Regions from separate parts of the Homo sapiens genome. Here region 1 is linked to region 2. The links come from fine-mapping of genetic effects on gene expression. A gene starts in region 2. The other region holds a variant in brackets. All regions are shown on one strand. Distances are between the middles of the regions. Region 1 overlaps MGAM (maltase-glucoamylase). Region 2 holds the start of MGAM (maltase-glucoamylase).

Region 1 (8,320 bases), 110 kb before region 2:
TGAATCTTAGACCCTGAATCTAAAATAAAAGTTGAAAAAAATTTAAAAACGGAGGATCTTTCTTTAAAAAGAAAAAGAAAACCTCTTACTTAAATCAACTTAAGGACTTTTTCTCCAAATTCTGCCTCCCCAAAGAAACAGCTAGAAATTCTCTTTCACAGCCTTTCTTTCATCCAAGGTAGAGGCAAGTGGCTGGAGCTTTGTGAATGAGATATTCCTGTGAGTGACTTACATCCAGAAGAAGGTGTAGATAAGGAGGTACCATGTAAAATCCAGGATGTTGGAAGCATAGCTCGTTTCAGAGGCAGCAGGGACAAGAGACCTAGTGGCATCCTATGCTCAGTATTTGGGGTTGCGAGCTGCCAGATATGTGCTCAGGGCAGTGGCAGTAGAAACCGCTACAGGGTAACCTGGGGCTTGTCCCTAGCCACATGGCCTACAAACCTGACTCTCTAGTCCTACCGGAGTTTCAATGAGTCACCAATATCTTTTTAAAATTTTTCTTAAGCCAGCTAAAGTGGATTTTTAAATTGACATATAATTTCCAAACCATAAGATTCACTCTTTTAAAGTATACAATTCAGTGTTTTTAAAAATATATTTACAAAATTCTGAAACTATCACCACTATCTAATTCCAGAACATTTTTGCCACCCCCAAAAATAATTAGTGGTCACTCCCCATTCCCATCTCCCCCTGTTTCTGCAGCCACTAACCTACTTTCTGTCCTTATGGATTTGCCTATTGTGAACATTTCATATAAATGCAGTAATACAATATGTGGCCATCTGTGTCTGGCTTCTTTTACTTGGCATGATATTTTCAAAGTTCATCCACACCATTTCAGGTATCAGTGTCTGTTCCTTTCCATGTCTGGATAGTATCCACTGCGTGGATAGACCACATTTTGTTTAGGCATGTATCAGCTGATATACATCTAGGTTGTTGATACTTTTTGCCTGTTATGAACGATGCTGCTATGAGCTGACACGTTTTAAAATTCTGCCTGGAATATACCTAGGAGTGGAATCATGGGTCATGTGACAAGTCTTTAACTTTTTGAAGAACTGCAAAACTGCTTTCTAATGTGGCAGCACCATTTTACACCCCCATTCCTGCCAGTAATATATGAGGGTACAGAGAGCTCTTTTGGTGGCACCTAAGAACTGTAAATAACAGTGTTCACAGTAGTGAATCTTTTGTGTTTGCTTCAAATGCTCAGTATGTGGAAAAGCACACATACACACACACACGGAGAGAGAGAGAGAAAGTGAGAGAGAGAGAGGGAGGGACAGAGAGAGAGAGAGAGAAAGAGAGACTCGGTTTCTGCATTTATGAACTGCTGGAATGACATATTCAGCTTTTCATTTGCCCCAGTACAAGGTGGCCTTTGTTAGAGGGGAAATGTACCAAGATCTCATTTCAAATTGGGAAGACATCCTGGCAAAAGGTCAAGAAGGGAGATTTTATTGTTACATAAGATCTATTTTTTGTGTGATATTTTACCTTTAACTCCCCACATGCCATGCACATTTGTGACTTCATTTATGTTAATAGTGGTAACCAACAGGCCCAGCTAATCTATAACCTGTTTCCTAAAGTGCAGAAAATAGCTACCTTCACCTTCCATTCTTGCTAACTAGTAACTGGAAGATATTGAATCACCATACTGGTGTTGACCAATGAGAAAATAACAGAGCCACTTTGAAGGGTAGAGACAGGCACGTGACCCGACATCTTCCAGTTGTCTATCGGTAACAAGGCACGGCAAAGTTAGCTATTGGCGGAACTCAAACAGTTGTCACAGCAAGCTGCTGGTTGGAATCATCAGATCAGAAACTAGTAATATGAGTCACCCTTAACTTCCAGAACACCTTTCTCCAAGGCCAGATGCAAAACTCTCAGTGACTCTGCCGCTATGACAAGAACAAAGAAATATTGATGAGATCTTGAAGACATCTGCCACGGCCAACATAACCTTATCTTTGCAGGTATATATGACATTTAATGTTATAACATTAATAAGAAAGGAATAGATGTCTTCCTATTTAAGTGAAAGAGTTTGAGAGTGTTTTTTTTTTTATTTTGGCACACCTATGAAGAAAGCAAAATTATGTGATCTAAAAAACAGAGCATATGTGGAAAAGGAAGGCCCCCAGCCTCTTCCTGAATAGCTGGCCAGGAGTTGTAAGCATAGGTCCATGTTGTAGGGGCTGCTCTGGGATGGCCACAAATGGATATGGTTCCATGAGAGGTGGTTCTCAGACTGTGATCTGAGGAACAACCTCTGGGGGTATTATTGAGCGAAAGGGCTCACTCTTCGATGCGCTAGAAGCCAATACTCTGATAAAGGGTTTCGAAGAAAAGCTTTTATTGCAAAGTCGACTCACAGGACACAGGAGTCCAGCTCAAACCTGTCTTCCTGTGCTGGCTTTAAGGAAGTATTTTTATCAGAAAAGACTTAGGGGGTGGATTCTGGGATTAGCAGGTGATTGGTAAAAGAAAGAGGAAATCTAGAAAGTCCTCAGGCATGCACAGTTATCTCTTCATGCCTCATCATGGGTCTCATGTGCAAATTTGGGAGGGAGTTAGTAAGAACCTGTGGTGGAAATTCAGGCTGTGACGTCAGCAAGCTCTTTCTGCGTTAACTCCGGTAAGCCATATTGGTTCCAACAGATAATCTCTTTTTCACACATTTCTGGCTGAAATTTAGCATTTTGTTAGGTTATGAATGTAGACAACAAAACACAGTAGTTTTCATAGCACATGAGTTTGTCAATAATGCAATCACAGATCTTTCCATATTACATTATGAAATTGTAGTGGATATCTCAAAATATTGTTGATGTTGATCATTACATTGAAATTATAGCATTGTTACTTCCACTGTTGGATCTTTTCATTTAATTTGATAATGAAAAAAACACATCTCATGGGTTACTATATCATCTTTAATATTTGGATAAGTGTATCGTAATATGATAAGTTTTCTTTGAAATAGCATGCATTTTGCTTGATGCATTTAAAAACAATGTTGTGAGGAAGAATTCCGTAGGTTTCACTAGGCTGTCAGTGGGGTCCCTGACACTTCGTGTGCTCCAAAACCCCACTGGCCTCACTAGGGCCTTAGCCATCAGAATTATATAGTCAGAATGCCTCTCCTTAAGCATTCTGTGGCAGCCAGAGCCAAATTCCACCAACATATCCTTGATGGTAACATTAAATATTTTTTAAATATCAAGTAAATAACGTTTTCATCTTTGTGGCCTTCCTGAGTTTGTTAGAGGAAAGCTGACAAGTTTCCCACCTTTTTGATCAAAGGATTCCCATGGCTGCTTTTCCATATTTCACCAGTTTCCTAGTTAGCTCAGGCCCTCATCCAAATGCCCCGTATTGTGATAATTAGATGATTTAACAATATTGTTTGTCTCTAGCCTTATGCAGGTGCTGACACATGAGTGTGCAGGGAGAATGAATGGCTTCCTGGTTATAAGAAAAGAAGAAAACACAGAGAAGTAGGTTCATTCATTCCACACACATTCATTTTCAACTCATTTTCAGGTAACATCAAAAGTTAATATTCCTGTTGAACATTAATATATAATTTCCTTATCTCACATTTTAACCCTATAGAATTTTAAGCAAGAAGGTTGCAACTCCTATTTTTACTGGAGTTGGTATTTTCCTAAATATAGCAACTGCTATGATGATTAAAATAGTAATCAATAGACCCTTCCACAAACCCACATCTTATAAAAGACTCCTTGCAGAGATGTAAGAAAAAGGATAATTATAAAGGTTATCATCCTATTGGTGGATTTGGCTGTAGGTTCTGTGATGCCGAAGAGAACCAGAAAGACAAATTCATAAGAGTTTGCTAAACAAGAACCTTAACCCCAAACAGAGATTACTCATGGTCAAAATAGCACAAAATTCAAAATCACTTGCAAATTCACTTGTTTTATTTTTATCTGGCATATAAATTGCATATTTTTATGTGAAATGTGGTTGTATACATTAGAAATAAGATTTACACATTTCAAAGCACACTACTGCAAAAATAAATTATTTTTAACCTCCAAACTCTCTTTTGAGCTTTGCCTGCTCAGATCTCAATCTCACCAGTAGCCCTTTATGCTAAGGATTTCTCAAGACCCTCTTCTTCAAGTGAGTTGACTCTTCCTTTTTCCTCCCCATGAGGCTGCTGACAATTTTACATTATGTTCTTACTTAGGATCACTTTTACTATCATCTTCTGTTTCATCTGATCTTTCCTTGTGTTTGCCTTTTCTTTGCTTATCATGCTCCCCCCACCTATAACCAATTAGGTATATTATTCCTCCCACCGCCTATAACCAACTAGCAGATGTTCTTTCTGGATACTTTCTTGAGATGCTGATTAGCTTCAAGACCTGGAACTGTCACAGAAAGCTTTCTCTTGTGTATTTAACAAAAGAATGGGGTCCATTCTATGATTACAAACGTGGACATACACACACTTCATCATGGACCCAGTTCATCTTCAGTAAATGTCATATGATGAACAGTCACTACCATACTAACCACACAGAGACATTAAGGTAATGCATAGATTTTCCACACCTCCCTAACTGCCTATCCCACAGGGCTAAGGTTTAACCTTTAGGGTTCACACAAAAAACATATAACAAAATTAACAGAAATATTTCACCAATAGTGGGTATGAACAAATTAGCAACACACAATAATTTTTATGAGTATGAAGTATAAGTAGTTTCAAAGTCATTCATAGTTAGTTAGAATCTTGCTGTAAAAATTCACAGAGTGCTTATCCACGTCAATGAAGTAAAATTATGTAGGCTGATGTTTCTGTCAGTCACATCGATGCTTAATACCTGTTAGGAACCAAAGGAAAAGAATTGGGCATCCGGTGTTGAAATTTCCTGCATGCAAATAAATCAGGTGCAAGTATCCAGTCCAAATAACCCCCTAATACTTCTACATTGTATTGTCTAGTTAAAAGACTGCCTTCAAAGTTTCAGATGAGAAGGGTGTTTTCTAATTTTTTAGAGTACAAAGATTATTCAGTGGTAGAGATGGGCCTTTAAATAATTCAATATGGGCCGGGTGCGGTGGCTCACGCCGGTAATCCCAACACTCCGGGAGGCCCAGGTGGGTGGATCATTTGAGGTCAGGAGTTTGAGACCAGCCTGGCCAACATGGTGAAACCCCAGCTCTAATAAAAAT[A/C]CAAAAATTAGCCAGGCGTGGTGGCAGGTGCCTGTAATCCCAGCTACTAGGGAGGCTAAGCCAGGAGAATCACTTGAACTTGGGAGGCGGAGACTGCAGTGAGCTAAGATTGCACCAGTGTACTTCAGCCTAGGCAACAGAGTGAGACTCAGTCAAAAAAAAAAAAAATGTTCAATATGCAACCGCTGAAGAGAAACAACTGCACAAACTGGAGAGAATGCCCTCTTTTCCATTCTACTGAGGTGTTGATTTTCCTTGGCACCATCCTTCTGTTTCCTCCTTCTCCTATTCCACTATAGCACCCCAGTGTTTGCCCAGCAAGAGTCCACTATTCCTGCTTCTTCCTAGGCAGATGCTGTCAAGAAGCTTTCACTGCATGTGCCCTCATCAGCTTGCATGTCTGTCCCTGAGCTGGTCAGCAACAGGATTGGGCAAAGTCCTTTATGGTATAGTTGGGGAAGTTGTTGACAAGAAAACCACAAGTATGAGGAAATAACTGTAAAGAATGCAAAACTGAAAGAAAACTTTTGTTTCAGGCTTAATCATCAGGAAGGATTATGAAAGAAAAAAGTTCAGGAAAAAAAATAATAAGTAAGCACACAAGGAAGAAAGTTTCATTTACCATCGGGATGATAAGTGTCAGGACCACTACACAGCATTAATCCCAAGGTACAGATTTTTCACATATTTAACATTCATCTGACAAGAGCGTGTCTTGTAATCGACAACCATAGAATTACTGTGAGCCAAGCAGCACTCATGGCATAATTGTTATTGTCTGTGCCTGTGTAAGCTTCATTGCTATTACTGTGTTATGAATGGATGGGCTGAAAACATTTAAGGATTATTACAGGAAGGAATATTTAGTAAGATCAAGAAAGCACTAGGATGAAAATGTATATAAAGTGTGTTAGTGGCTCAGGAAAAAAACTTCATAGACACTAGTGGAAGAATTTTTATAAAATGCTGAATCACCAACACCTTTTGCAGTACAGAGGAAATATCTTAACCAATTTGTAACACATATTTTTCTTCTAAATAATAATAAATACAATAAACTAAATAATAAAACAGTTTAATATGAATTTAAATAGTACAATTTAAATACGATACAAGTTGGTTAAGCTATTTCTAGTGCTTCTTCACATTTAGGGTCTACCTCTTTTAAATTACGTTGAGGCAGAATCATCAATGTATCTCCACTCAACATTTTCCTCCATATTATCACTTACAATATTGAAATATATAGGTAAAACTTTATGGCTAAAGAAGTTTCAAAAACTTTCTATAAGTTTATTATAAAAATCTGAGGCTGGGCACAGTGGCTCACGCCTGTAATCTCAGCACTTTGGGAGGCCAAGGCAGGCGGATCACAGGGTCAGGAGATCGAGACCATCCTGGCTAACACAGTGAAAACCTGTCTCTACTAAAAATACAAAAAATTAGCCGGGCATAGTGGCAGACGCCTGCAGTCACAGCTACTTGGGAGGCAGAAGAATGGCATGAACCTGGGAGGCAGAGCTTGCAGTGAGCTGAGATCACATGCCACTGCACTCCAGCCTGGGCAACAGAGTGAGACTCCGTCTCAAAAAAAAAAAAAAAATTGAGTGATAAGGAAGCATTCTATCATAGTTTTGTCATCCTTTTTTCTTTCTTTGTGGCACATGAAATAATGAAGCAATTTTCACTGATGGTATCATATTTGATAAAATATGATAGTTCCAACCTGTTTGGGAAGTTGATCTCTGAGGCAGAGGTGAGGGAGTCAAGACAAAGTTTTACATAGGTTTGCAGACAAGAAGACAAACATGGAAAGTAAGAATCCAGGCCATGGATTCCAAATGATGATAAACCATGATTTTTCATTCATCTCCACGTGGTCCATTCCTAACACATGGAAAACTCAGGGATTCCCGGAGGGCCTGGCAGGAGAGGGCATCATTTGGAAGGGAAGCAGTCAGGCACTGCACTAGGCATATTAAGGGTGGAGAATACCATTCGCACTTTTTGCTGGTCACAAACCTGTGTCGTGGGGTCATTGTTGAAGGAGGGTGTTATGACCATGCCACTCACAGAGATGCTGACACTGGTAACGGGGACACTGCCCACTCCCCAGATTTCAATGTAGCCCAGTTTCAAAGGATTTGTACCAGTGATGTAATTGTTGAAAATTATATGGCTTTGCATCGTATTCTGTTGAATTGGAGATAAAAGAAAAATATAATAGCAGAATTAGTTCAAATTTTTCTAACCTCTTTTTAGGCACAAATGTAGGTCATAAAGTAAGACAACTTCAGAGTCACCATCTTGTAACTTTGGATCATGGAAATCATGATTTCATCACTCTATGGCCTATTGCCAACTCCCATCCACTTTGCATTGACAAGCAGCTACAGGGTCTTTCGCACTGCCCTGAACTCTACAGGAGACAAAAAGTCTCAGCTGTTAAGATACTTATATTCTACAGGTGGAGGAATCCCAAAATGTGCAGACCATTCCAAGGCAACTCAGGAACAAGGGCTAGATAACAGAAACTGCCCGTCCACCTGTAACATGGTAAACTAGAATAATGATCATTACTGATGAGATGTGGATAGGTTTAATTGCAGAAAGCCTCCTGGGAGCATAGTAAATTTCCACCGGAAGTCTAGAGAAGTAGAAGAATGTGAATTAGCAAGATGAGCAATGAAGAAATTCTAGGTGGTATTTTATGCCCTTACGATATTCAGCACCCTCCTAAGCCAGTGGAACCCTATTCTCACTTCATATCAATCACACTCACCTGGCTGGCAGAAAAGCTGGCCAAGTAATAGAGTCCTTTCCCATAGGTATCTGCAAACAAAAAACAAGATAAACATGGCCTGGACCTGTGCTGTAGAACTCTATGCTATAGAATATATAAATGCTGTTCTAATTGCCTACTTGTCTTGTTTGAGAGAGTAAGGCTTATCTTTGTTTTTATTTCTGTCTTTTGAGTGTTCTATTTTAAAATGTAAGTGCTCTTTATGGAGACTAATCAAACCCTGCACCCACACTCAGTTTACACAAAATGCTTGAAATGAATGTGTATAGACACATCTGTCTGACAGAGTCA
Region 2 (8,343 bases):
CTCCTTGCTCTTTCTCTTGGATCATTTCCTGAAGAAACCAGTTACCATGCCATCATAACATTCAAGCAGGACTATGGAAATTTCTAGCAAAGAACTGAGGTCTTCTGCTAAGAGCCATCTGAGTGAGGTCCCTTGAAAGCAAGCCTCTACCCCTATTCAAGCCTTCACATGACTACAGTCCTGGCTGACATATTGGCTGGATTCATGAGAGACCCTAAATCAGCACCACTCGGCTAACTCACCCCCATATTTCTGACCTACATAAATTGGGAGATAATAAATGTTTGTTGTTTTAAACTACAAAATTGTAAGGTAATTTGTTACCCTGCAATAGATAACCAATATGCATAGGTAAATATGACTTTTTAATAAAATATCATTAGCATATTTTTAAAAACATGTTTGCTGTTTATTAATAGTCCTTTTGCTCCATATTTTCAAATATGGTTACTTGCTCTATGGAACAATAATATCTATTTTCTAGCTATACAAGAGAAAGATTTCCTTAAACCTTAAAAAAAACTCCAGCATTATCTGATTGACCTTACTTCCTGCATTATAGAACTCTTGATGGTGAAGCTTCCTATCTCAATTAGAAATGCAATTGAAGAAAAACTAAGATCAGGAAAAATGGCAAGACGCAAATAAAAAAGGAAATAATTTAAATAGGGTTAAGGGCTTTTAAAAATGTTTTTTAAAAAACTGCTACTTGGCAATCTGTCCTTAATCTTTGACTATTTTTTTATAGGACAAATATATAACTATGCAATTTTAATGCTAATGATAATAATGGTTAACAGTGATTGAGCAGATATCCTAAGAGGTTTCCATAATTTGTCACATGCCATTTTTATAACGACTGCAAGTTAATCATGGCTACTATCCTCACTTTCAGATGAAAAAACTAAGCTTCAGAAACGTCAAATAAACTGCCTGATGTCATCATACAGCTGATAAGGAGCAAAGCCACAATTTGAACACCTGCCCTTTGGACTCCACAGCCATGGCTTTTAACCATCACTCTGTATTCTATGCTATAATGCCCCACAGTGTACACCAGCTTGGGCTTTCTGTGAGATTATAGTTTTATCAAATAAAAACACATTAAGTTTATGGCCCATAGCACGTTTTAAATTATCTGGGAGACCTAGAAGAAGCTACTGATGTGCCTCATTTGCCAAGATCATTCATCATTATCTAAACTACATCTCTGGAAGAAAGAAATCTGCTTGCAGTTTATTTATTCATTCATGAATTATTTATTAAGTTCCTACAATGTGCCAAGCATTCTTTCAAAAACTGACTACACAACAATGAACAAAACAGATAAAAATCCCTGCCGTCATGAGACTTATGTTCCCATGAATAGAAAAAAGAGACAATAAACAAAATAAATAAATATACACTGGGTTATACTGTGTAAGTATATGGAGAAAAAGTGGGGGGTAAATGAGGAATGTTGGGGTAAGGGTGGCAATTTTAATTAGGTTGGTCAGAAAATAATCTTACTGAAATATAAGAATTATTACTATATACATATGAACGCTTTTACACTGTTGGGAGTGTAAATTAGTTCAAGCATTGTGGAAGACAGCGTGGCAATTCCTTAAGGATCTAGAACTAGAAATACCATTTGACCCAGCAATCCCATTACAGGGTATGTACCCGAAGGATTATAAATCATTCTACTATAAAGACACACGCACACGTATGTTTACTGCAGCACTATTTACAATAGCAAAGACTTGGAACCAACCCAAATGCCCATCAATGATAGACTGAATAAACAAAATGTGGCACATATACACCATGAAATACTATGCAGTCATAAAAAAGGATGAGTTCATGTCCTTTGCAGGGACATGGATGAAACTGGAAGCCATCATTCTCAGCAAACTAACACAGGAACAGAAAACCAAACACTACATGTTTTCACTCATAAGTGGAAGTTGAACAATGAGAACACATGGACATGGGGAGGGGAACATCACACATTAGGGCCTGTCAGGGGATGGCGGGCTAGGGGAGGGAGAGAATTATGACAAATACCTAATGCATGTGGGGCTTAAAACCTAGATGATGGGTTGACAGGTGCAGCAAACCACCATGGCGCATGTATACCCATGTAACGAACCTGCACATTCTGCACATGTATTCCAGAACTTAAAGTAAAATTTAAAAAAAGAATTATTACTATATATACATTACGCAAAAGCAATAGAATTTTTTTCTTCTTGAATTATTTAGTATATGAATAATTGTCAAAGCTCATTGTCCTGGTACCATTATAGTTCTTTAGGCAAAGTAGACAAACCACATGGGGGCCCAAATTATTAAAATGGCTATCTAAATTAATTTGGAAAAACTGGATATTTGTCCTCTTTCCGGCATTATAGCCAGCGTTTGATGTGTATATGGAGGTCTAAGCCATTCTTTTAAAATCCTTTGCTAACACAAGACATGAGATCTAGTGGAAAAGAGGATTCATTGTGGATAGATAGACTAAGAACAACTTGCAAAGAGGACCCCAGTGAGCCATAGCTATTCATCAAAAATGCTGGGCGATATTAGTAGGTTGGGCCATCCTTTCCCAGCTGCTTGGTGAATGGGAAGGGATAAGGTAGCTAATGAATGGCTTTTTTCTTCCAAGTCTGGTCACACCCAAGGTGAGAGATTTAAGAGTCAGCTCTGACCCTAGCCAGCTGTATGACCTTGGAAAAATCCACTTAACCCCTCTGGGTCTCAGTTTCCCCATCTGAACTGCAAAAGGATCATCTCTAGGAGACAGCTAACTCCTCCTTGAGCCCAGCAACAGGGTGTGCAAAGGCTTATATTTCTCATCACATTCCACAGCTGCCACCTGAACAAATTTTAAATGGAAAATTTCTTTTCTAGTTCCATTCCATGCTTATAGAACAATTTTTATAGTAATTTTATTAGCTCATTAAAATGTATTTGTGAGGGAATGCCTGATAATAAAAAATAATCATTGGCATCTTGTGAGAGTGTGACTGAAATAGCAACAAGCTGTCTTAAATTTAGTGTCCCACTTCATTTGGTCCCTGGTAGCACAGGGACCTACCAGCACAACAAACCAAAGACCCCCTCCATCTCACCCCCTCTTTGCACACCTACAGACATACACTTACTGTCCCACACCAGGACACAGACTGTAGACAGTTTGGACATTGGGAGGTCTTCCTCGCCCAGCAAAGCCACTGATCAGATCCTGCATGAAGAACCTAGTGGTATCCTTTTTCAGGGAGACCCATGGGGATTAGTCTCAATTTCTCTCTCTTTCCCCAAGAGTAACTCTCCCTTCCCACCTCTGTAACCAGTCAGAAAAGAAATGCCTGCGTGTGTCTAGCTAGACTGGCAACTAGTAAGGATCCAACTTTTTTTAAGTTTTATTTTAAGTTTTATTTTAAGTTTATTTTAAGTATTTTATTTTAAGTTTTTAAGTTTAAGGGCCAACAACAATTTATCACCTTCTCCTCTTCCCACGAGCACTCCCATTCTACTCCACACATGACTGCCAGGACAGATACCCTACCTTTCTCTTTATGACCTCCTCCCACATTCCACAGGAAACCTCTCCTACCCACCAATGCACACCAACTCATAAATGCATCCCAATATTTTACACACATCCTCAGACTATCCCCTAAAATTATTCTGTATTTAATCAACAGAGGCACCAAACCCATAAGCATAGTGATATATTTCTCAATTTTCTGATTATAATTGGTTCTTCAGTTACATTTTCTCAATCACAACTCCAAATCCTTTCAGAGGGAAAATGCTCTAATCTCACTCCCAAATTCTAACTCCTTTTATTCATTTCTCTCACTTCATTTCCAGAATCTGAAAGAATTTCTGCCTGCTACCTCAACCTAAGTATTAAATAATTCATCACACCTCACACAGAAACACACACAAACACACAGGTTTCACTACAATCAGGCTTATAGATCCAGCCTTAGTTCAGAAAAATATACACACACTAAGAAAAAAAGATAAATGAGAATTTTGTTCCATGTGTATGCATGTGCATAATTTTTGATTTATTATTGGTGTTGTTTATCTTTGTGTTTAACAAATTAACAAGGGCTTTTTTTTTTTTTTTGAGACGGAGTATCGCTCTACGACCCAGGCTGGAGTGCAGTGGCGTGATCTCGGCTCACTGCAAGCTCTACCTCCCAGGTTCACGCCATTCTCCTGCCTTAGCCTCTCCGAGTAGCTGGGACTACAGGCGCCCGCCACCATGCCCGGCTAATTTTTTGTATTTTTTTAGTAGAGATGGGGTTTCACCATGGTCTCGATCTCCTGATCTCGTGATCCACCCGCCTCGGCCTCCCAAAGTGCTGGGATTACAAGTGTGAGCCACTGCACCCGGCCAACAAGGGCATTTTGACTAAAAGAGATCAACTCAAATTCACACACACTTGTAGACACACATCTGTAACCGTAAAAGAATACAAGGTTCACAAACATACCTCATTACCTCTTGCAGCCGCTCCCTCTCTGTCTGAAGGATGGCTTAGCAATAAAAGCAGAGGAGCACAGTCCACCAAAGCAACCAAAGATCTGGTAACTATTTACCGACCTATCAAGAAAATGTTAATGGCTTTCAAATGCAAATGAATGGCCAGCTTTTATTTCCAGGATCAGAATTTTTAGTTAATTAGTAATCGTGGTCTTGCTCTAAGAAGGACATCCTTAAGACTTTTGGAAGGAAAAGCCAGCTCCCATGACCCACTCCATCCCCTCCAGGCACTGAATGTTTAATCGGTGGTGAGGACACCCTGTATGTCTGGTAAGAGAACACAGACACAATTTGTAGATGATAAAGAGCAAAAAATAAATGACCCCAGTATTCCAAAAGAGCCCTGGTCTCTTGCACTGACTCCGAATCTCTCAGGAACTCACTGACGTTTAGTAGCACAATCTGATGATTGTGATGGAAGGAAGTTGTTTTAAAAATGTTTTAAAAATAGTTTTCTTCTTTCTTCTTTAAGGTGTCCTTAAGCTTGTTTGCAGTATGGAAATCCTTTAACAGTCTGGTGACTCTTGAACTGCCTTTGCAGAACTATAAATAAGAGAAATCTAACAAGACTGACTCCATCTTGCTTCTAACCTCCCAGGCTAAATTATGTTTTCTAGGGGATTTTTTTTTTTTTTGGTTGGCTTTTTGCTTATTCTAGTACAAAGGCCAAGAAACCTATGAGAGGGATTTAGTTTATAGTTAAACTTGGAGTCAAGGGAAAATGATCCCCCTCCTTGCCTGGAGCTTAAAGGCGCATTCATAAGGCAAGGTTGGAATTATGGTAGGGGCTTAGACTTTGCTAAAGAATAGGCATAAACAATGTCCTGCCATGGCTTAGTTTGTTTTTCTATAAGTTGCTTACTGCCCCAGTCACACAACCAGTGTCACAAAATTCATAACTTCCCCAACTACCAAAGATAACATCACTGTATTGGTCTGTTTTCACACTTCTATAAAGACATGCCTGAGACTGGGTAATTTATAAAGAAAAGAGGTTTCGTTGACTCAGTTCCGCAAGGGTGGGAAGGCCTCAGGAAACAATCATGGTGGAAGGGGAAGCAGGGACTTCTTAACATGGCGGCAGGCCAGAGAGAGTGAGCAAGAGCAGGGAAAACTGCTTTGCAAAACCATCAGATCTCATGAGAACTCACCCACTATCATGAGAACAGCATAGGGGGATCCGCCCCCATGATCCAATCACATCCCACCTGGTCCCTCCCTTGACACATGGGGATTATGGGGATTACAATTCAAGATAAGATTTGGGTTCTGACACAAAGCCTAACCATATCAATCACTATTGTGAAACCTAAATAACTGGTCTTTTAGATATTTGTTAGCATTTCAGTAGACCAACAGACACCACCTAGTCTTGAGGCCAACACACACACCCCTCCTGGGAACTGACTCAGTTGCACAAAGACAGTTTTAGGTGCTCCTGTGATTTCATTCCCTGCCAATCAATTATACAAGTTCCCCAGCCCCATGCCCACCAAAGTACCCTTTACAAACCTTAGCCTTTGAATCCTGAGGGAGAGGGGATTGAGAAGTTTTTGCCTGCTCTTGTTTGGCCAACACTGTGATTATTCAACTCTTTATTTACTGCAATGCCTGCTGTTCTCATTGATCTTTTTGGAGGGCAGTGGGCAAGAAGAACTTATGGAGCTGAGACATGCTTATAAACCCCTCTTAGAATTAATTCTTAGGCCAGGTGCAGTGGCTCACGCCTGTAATCCCAGCACTTTGGGAGGCTGAGGTGGACAGATCACCTGAGGCCAGGAGTTCAAGACCAGCCTGGCCAACATGGTGAAACCGCGTCTCTACTAAAAGTACGAAAATTAGCCGGGCATGGCGGTGCGTGCCTGTAATCCCAGCTACTCATGAGGCTGCGGCAAGAGAATCACTTGAACCCAGGAGGCGGAGGTTGTAGTGAGCTGAGATACAAAGAAAATCAATTACATTGAAACACAGTTACTATAATATTTTTTAAATTATAGTTTGTGCCTCTTTAATGACATACTAACAATAAAGCGATATGTCTAATAGCGATTGCAATTTCAAAAACATGATAAGCGTAAACAATATCTTGAGATTGTTTTAAATATATGATGTGAAAGTAACTGTGACCTCTCTTGAAACCAAATTCATAGGTACTACTAACACCACTGTAGTTTGCAGCCTAACTCTAAATTTCAATTAGAATTTAGCAAAGAAAAGATATGTAAATATTTTCCCCCTCCAAGTTCACAGGCTTTCAGAATTATATCTACAAACCCCAGGTTAAGAACTTTGCTCTGTTACTAAGTGGACCTTCCTCCAAGTGGGGCAGAGTTCCCCGCTCTGTGATACTCCAAGAGTTATCTGTGAACCTGTGGTTGCCAGCTTCCAGAAAAATAAGCACAGAAATTGAAGGTAAGTGTTGAGAGACTTGCATTACAATTTGACAGAATCATTTCATGTCATTGATCTTGATAATTAAAAAATGGAGCTTGTATCTGTATATGCTTTTTTAAAATTTATTTTTCAAGTAATTTAGTTTTAATTTTACAAAAGCCACAGTCTGTGATATATTGGACAATTTTAAAACAATTGCTGTTTTACCACACATAGTTTAAAAAGTCCTGCTCAGCTACTGCTATTTCTAGGCATTTGTCTTTATGGGCTAGTGAAAATTCAGAAAAAAATCTGGGCCAAGAGACCTAAATTTATAAACCATGTATATCATCTGGAAAATACAAACAAAAATCACTATCTCTTATCACAGTCGTTTCACAGTAGACATAGACAGATAATCAAAATTGAATCAATTTATCTCTTTGAAAGTTTACTTCCTTATCCTTACTTTTCTGATTTCATGAACCATCAGTGAACAACAACCACCGTGGTAACACTGACTTACCGTGTTTCTTTGGCATCATAGAATCAAAGAATTTACAGCTAAAAGAGGAAAGAAAGGAAAACTGGCATGCATGGAGGCTGGCCGAGTGCCAAGACCTTGGGTCTGAAGCAGTGGCTCATACATGTAATCCTAGCACTTTGGGAGGCCAAGACGAGAAGATCACTTGAGCCCAGGAGTTCAAGGCCAGCCTGGGCAACATAAGGAGAACATGTCTCTACAAAAAATAAAAAAAATCAGCTGAGTGTGGTGGTCCACACCTGTAGTCCCAGCTACTTGGGAAGCTGAAGTGGGAGTATCACCTGAGCCTGGGGGTCAAGGCTGCAGTGAGCTATGATCATGTCACTGCAGCCCAGCTTGGGTAACAGAGTGAGAGCCTGCCTCAATAAAAATAAATAAATAAAAACAAGACCTTCACCTACATGATCTCACTGATGTTCACAATGGCCCCAAGGCAGCAAATGTCTAAACTGCCACCCAAATGCACATCCATCAAGCTCCTAAGACATGTGACTTGAGTTGTTTGGTATCGCCCTTAAAGAACTTTAAAAATCACTAAGCATAGCCTCCTTATTTTACAGAAGAGGAAATTGAGACCCAGGAATAGGAGGTTTGTGTGGGTGGTGACTCAGAGTTCCAGATCCGAACAGGGCAGGCCTGAATTGCAAAGCCCAGGTCTGCTTATTAACTGGGGGAGCTTAAGCAACTAAGTCTCTGATTCTGTAACTTAAATGAAGATTAAAATACTACCTATCAATAAATTTATAAACTAGACAAAATAATGTGAGTAAAAGACTTGATGTTACTTAGTAAATACTCAGTAAGTGTCAGTTACAATTAATATGATCAGTTTGCATCTGCCACAGTTGTGACAAGAGCTCAGACCCTGAATCCCCAATCC

Evidence for each region.
Region 1: its variant is fine-mapped to the expression of MGAM in whole blood (TOPMed, PIP above 0.99).

Annotation. Positions count from the first base shown.
Region 1 is chr7:142,102,368-142,110,687 of GRCh38, reverse strand. MGAM (maltase-glucoamylase) reads right to left here. Exons shown (of 71, transcript NM_001365693.1): 69 at 8,009-8,058; 70 at 7,249-7,419; 71 at 3,941-4,874. The coding sequence ends at 4,797. Among named protein-coding and RNA genes, the nearest start is that of MGAM2, 5.2 kb to the left of the region's middle. The variant A/C (reference allele first, on the strand shown) is at 5,227.
Region 2 is chr7:141,992,084-142,000,426 of GRCh38, reverse strand. It overlaps MGAM (maltase-glucoamylase), which reads right to left and starts at 4,548. Exons shown (of 71, transcript NM_001365693.1): 1 at 4,497-4,548. RefSeq lists an enhancer at 4,349-4,850.